Linked DNA regions of Homo sapiens: region 2 is linked to region 1. Evidence: fine-mapped expression QTL. Tissue or cell type: whole blood. Region 1 holds a variant in brackets; the other region holds the start of a gene. All regions are shown on one strand. Distances are from middle to middle.

Region 1 (2,756 bases):
TGAGCTGAGCTAGGAACCCTAGCCCAACCTCACTGCAAAACCTAGATTCCTTCTACCAGAGCAACGGTCTTCAGACTGTTTTGATCACATATCCTACTGGTGTGCAATTTTTATCACAAACCCTCATTGAAACGTGTCTGTTTATAAATTATATACTTATTCTGTTGCCAATCACTACAATGCATATGAGTATGCTTAATCTCTCTTTTTTCTTTTCTTTTCTGTTTCCTTCTTCCCTCCCTCCTTCCTTCCTTTCTTTTTTCTTTCTTTCTTTCCTTCTTTCTCTCTCTTTCTCTTTCTCTCTTCTTTCTTTCCTTCTTTTTCTTTTTTCTTACTTTTTTGAGACAGGGTCTCCCTCTGTACCCAGGCTGGAATGCAGTGGCACTATCATAGCTCACTGCAGCCTCAAACTCCCAGACTCAGGTGATCCTCCCGCCTCAACCTCCTGAATAGCATGCACCACCACACTGGCTAGTTTTTAAAAAAATTTTTTTGTAGAGAGGAGGTCTTGCTAGGTTGCCCAGGCTATTCTCCAACTCCAGGGCTCAAGCCATCTTCCCCTCCCCATCCTCGGCCTCCCAAAGTGCTGGGATTACAGGTGTGAACCACTATGCCCAGCCAATTGCTTTTCTTTCTTATGTAGACATTAGTTAGAATATTTTCTTCTCATGCCTCTGGGGGTGAGTATGCTTCCTTGCAGAGCTGCGCACTAGAGCATGCTGGGTTCCTTGGGAAGAAAGCAAGGAAGTATTCTAAGGCCCAGAGGAACCTGTTTGCTCAGGCGACACAAACACTGGCAACTCTGGAGATGGGAGATCCTTGTAGGGAGGTCTTGGAGAAGGGAGGAAGCCCAGGAAATGGTCTCGGCCACTGTACAGCTGTGCCTCATGGCTCTTCATCACATAACTCTTGTCCCCAAAGCAGCTCTGATCATTGTCCCCTGAGCTCCTAACCAGTCACCCCACCATTCCTGAGACCCAGCATCTCAGTCTGTTCTACCTGTAGTTCTCACTGCTGCTTTGAGCCACACCCCATCTCTCTATCTCTGTCTCCCTCTCCTTCTCCCCATGCCCTTCCTTCCTTTTTTTTTTTTTTTTTTTTTGAGACAGAGTCTCGCTCTGTCGCCAGGCTGGACAGAGTGCAGTGGCGCGATCTCAGCTCACTGCAAGCTCCGCTCCCTGATTCAGGCGATTCCCCTGCCTGAGATTACAGGCATGTGCCACCACACCCAGCTAATATTTGTATTTTTATTAGAAACGGGGGTTTCACTGTTGGCCAGGCTGTTCTCGATCTCCTGACCTTGTGATCCGCCCGCCTCAGCCTCCCAAAGTGCTGGGATTACAGGTGTGAGCCACTGCGCCCGACCCCCTCCTCTCTTCTTCATGGCTTCTTCCTGCTGCCTTCTCTCTGGGCTATGTCGGTCCCATCTGTTTCTTACATTCGGACTTCCTAAGAGAGATGATCTGTTTGGGCCAGTCACTGCCCAGAATGACAGTGCTGTTTGCTGGCATGGCCTGCAGTCAGTCAGTGGAAGGGGCGCTGGTCTCTGGGCCTGGCAGCGGTGGCCCAGGTGTTGGGTACCTGATTCCCTTTGCTCCTGCTTTCCTCGGGAGAGGCAGTAGGAGGGACAGGTGCTCAGAGCATCACGTTCCCTACAGGACAGTGTACAAA[G/A]ATGCTCACCACAGTGTTCGTTACAATAGCAAGGAAGTGGAAAGCAGTACATCTGGGTGGTTAAGCGCCTCTCTGAGCTTTAATTTCTTCTCCTGTAAAATGGAGATAAAATCAGTCTCTACCTTGAGGTGTTATTGTGAAATAAATAAGATAATGCATGTAAAGGTGCCTAGCACAGTGCTAAAAGTCATAAATTCTAAGAAAACGGTAGTTTGTATGATTAGTGTTATTAGAAACAGTTTAATGGTCAATAATAGAGGAACAGCATGGTCATTTTTGACATCTATATCATGGACTGTGTAGCCATGATAAAATGTGATGATAAAAGTGAATGTTTATAAAGAGTGTATGTTAACATTTCATGCTGTGTTGTTGAATGAAAAGTATCAGTATGGAAAACTCTCTACAATTCAATCTTTTTTTTTTTTTTTTTTTTTTGAGACAGAGTCTTGCTCTGTCTCCCAGGCTGGAGTGCTGTTGCACAGTCTCAGCTCACTGCAACCTCCCCTTCCTGGGTTCGAGCACTTCTCCTGTCTCAGCCTCCCTGAGTAGCTGGGACTACAGATATGCAGCCACCATGCCTGGCTAATTTTTTGTATTTTTAGTAGAGACAGGGTTTCCCCATGTTTGCCAAGCTGGTCTTGAACTCCTGACCTCAAGTGGTCCACCTGCCTCCGCCTCCCAAAGTGCTGGGATCACAGGTGTGAGCCACCACACCTGGCCAATAATTCAATCTATGTAAGTGCACACGTGGGAAAATTTTAAATGAAATACATAGATATTACCACTGGTCTCTGAGTTACAAGGTTATAAGATGATAGGCCGGGCACAGTGGCTTACGCCTGTAATCCCAGCACTTTGGGAGGCAAAGGTGGTTGGATCACGAGATCAGGAGATCAAGACCACCCTGGCCAATGTGGTGAAACCCTGTCTCTACTAAAAATACAAAAATTAGCCAGGCGTGGTGACACACACCTGTAATCCCAGCTACTCAGGAGGCTGAGGCAGGAGAATTGCTTGAACCCGGGAGGTGGAGGTTGCAGTGAGCCAAGATGGCACTACTGCACTCCAGTCTGGGGATATAG
Region 2 (2,614 bases), 320 kb after region 1:
AAAAAGCAAAAAAAAAAAAAAAAACTTTGGGGATTAATTAACAAAACAACAACAGAAAGCACCGCGCAGGCCAAGTAAAGCCCACCACCTGGCTGGTGACCCCCTGCTCTGGCAAAGGTGTCACTGAAGGCAGGCCCTCCTGGGAGGAGGCTTCTCACTCTCCTGCTCTTGGAAATGGGCTCTAGATAGACCCAGTTTCCTGGTGATCGCTGGGAGAACAGAGCTGTCCTGTTGGGCTTTGTGGTCCTGGGCAAAGCCCTTCCCCTCTCTGGGCCAGTTTCCTGGCCGGCGAAAGGACTTAGTCTGTGGGGCTCCTGCCCGTTTGGACACGTGTGTGACTCAGTCCCTCAGCCTCGAGGAGGGAAGATACGGCTATTATAGAAGTGACTCCTCCCAGGAACTGTGCTTCCGGGATTGGACGCAGGGCCTCAGGCATTTTGCGTGTCCACAGTCACAACTGTGTGAATATAGGTGTGTCATAATTGGAAGCTTTGCATGGCTCAGTGTAAATATCATCACTTTAATGACTTTGTTCTGCAACCTTTCATCGCGGCTCTGCATGCCGGTAGAAGCTTTTATTAATTCTGTGACCTGGGGAGGACAGGGTCCTTCCTCCCATTTGCTGTTTAAGGAAACCCAAGCTCAGAGCTGGGAGGTGGCTTGGCTAAACGTGCACCACTCGGAGCCCAGACTCAAGTGTCGGTGCTTTGGTACTTGTGGCACCCCTCCTTCAACAGGGGAGAATGAGGTTGGGATCTGAGGGGTCCTCTCTGTGCCCATCACAGTTTGAGCTTCAGGGAAAAGAAGAAGAGGTCTTTGCCCTTCGTTTTTCCACGGGAGGAGAATGTATGAGCCCAGGCTACCTTTCTGGGCCTTGTGTCGACATCCCTAGCTGTCTCCTCAAATCTCTTGCCCTGAATCAACCTGGCCTGTGTTCTCTGCGGCACTCGGAACCTGGAGGCGGACTGAGCCTCCAGCAGTCTAACATCTTTTGCAGTGTCGTGAATAGCCGCCTGTTTTCGCAGGGGCCCAGTGCTCTGCCTGGAGAGGAGAGAGATCCTGGCAGGCGGGGAGAGGAGACTTTGGGTCTAGACCCTCCCCTCCCATCCCCTCACCTCCGCTTTTTGTGCGCCCTCCTCTTCCCTCTGTCCCCCCCGCACCCCGTCTTTTCCACCTGTGCCCTGGACTGCATTAGGGTGTCAGTATCTGTGTGCTCCCCCACCCCCACGCGTAAGCCCGCGCGCCTGCACTGAGGCTGGGGAACTGCGTCTCGCAGCTGCGGCCCCCAGCGCGGAGGGCGCGGGCCCTTTAAATCCTCCGGGGCGGCGGCGGCGGGCCGGGGATGACATCAGCGGGCGGGCCCGGGGCTCAATGGGAGCCGGCGGGCGCGCGCGGTGCGAGAGCGCGCGAGCCGGCGGCGGGGGCGGGCGGGCGGGCAGGAGGCCGGGAGGAGGGAGGCGGCGGCGGCGGCGGCGGCGGCGGCGAGAGCCCAGAGCCAGAGCCCGGCCGGGGCCGAGCGGAGCGCGGCGGCGGCGGCGGCGGCGGCGGCTGGGCCGGGAGAGGCTGGCGCGCCGGGCGGCTCCGCGAATCCTCCGGCATCCGCCCCGGCGGGCCGCCCCCGCCCGCGGCAGCCCCCCGAGCAGTGGCCCGGCATCGGCGCCTTCCCGGCGGGGTAAATATCGGGGGGCCGCGGGCCCGCGGAAGGGTGCAAACCTGGGGGGAATCGGGCTCCCTCAGCCTCTTTGTTTTTGCTGGAGAGGGAGGGAAGGGAGGGCAGACACACGCGCGTTCGCGCTGGGGTGTAGGGGGGGCAGCCCGGGCGCCGCCCGCTCGGCCCGGCGAGGACAAAGGCGCGGCTGGGGACGAGGAGGAGGGGGCCTGTTATTTTGCAGGCTCGCGGGGGAGGCCCCCCGGCCGGCCTGCCTCCGCTTCCCCCCGCTGGGCCCTCCGAGGCCCCGGCCGGCCAGGCGGCCACCCCGGCTGTGATTTGGGGACGCTGAGGGAGGGGGCTTGGGGTGCTGGGCGCCGGATACTGTTGATTCGGGCCCGCGTAGCGTTTCATCGGACAATCACCGGCGCCCCCTGCTCTCCCGGCCCCGGCGCCCGGACCTGGGGGTTCGCAAGGCTGCGCCCGCTCGTTGGATGACGGGCGTTTGGGGGTCCTAAGGTGAAGAGGTGTGTGGTCACCAGGCCACTGATTTGTTTTTCTTTGTGGAGAGAAAGAAAGGGGTGGGGGTTATTTGTCGGATCGGATTCTCCCATTTTTGTGTGAGAGATTGATGTCTTGCAAGTCTCTAAGGAACGCAAAACAGTGTCTGGGTGTCGTTAGAGGATTCCCAAGCTCTTGTTAATACCCTAACTCGAAGTGGGGTGAGCCCCCTCCCCAACTTTTCCCTTAGTTTTCTTGCATATTTTCTTCCTGGCATAGCCTCCTTCCTGGAGAAGGATTTGGAGAGAGGAGAAGGGGACACAAGTGTCTCAAGTTGCTTCCAAGCAATGCCTGTGTTTGGGTCTCCTTTGCCTTCGTTTCTATGATGTCCCTTCAATTTTTATTTTAATCGTCCGAGGGACAAGGGCCCCGGCTCAGGGGTAGGCGATGGTGTTCGGGGAGTAA

Evidence for each region. PIP is the estimated chance that this variant, and not a neighbour inherited with it, causes the effect.
Region 2: CSNK1E starts here. The variant in region 1 is fine-mapped to the expression of CSNK1E in whole blood (TOPMed, PIP above 0.99).

The regions. Positions count from the first base shown.
Region 1 is chr22:38,633,575-38,636,330 of GRCh38, reverse strand. All of the region lies in intron 6 of FAM227A (family with sequence similarity 227 member A), which reads left to right. Among named protein-coding and RNA genes, the nearest start is that of FAM227A, 21 kb to the left of the region's middle. The variant G/A (reference allele first, on the strand shown) is at 1,672.
Region 2 is chr22:38,316,218-38,318,831 of GRCh38, reverse strand. CSNK1E (casein kinase 1 epsilon) reads left to right here and starts at 1,399. Exons shown (of 11, transcript NM_152221.3): 1 at 1,399-1,672. The region is part of intron 5 of TPTEP2-CSNK1E (TPTEP2-CSNK1E readthrough); the gene reads left to right. RefSeq lists a silencer at 1,682-2,071.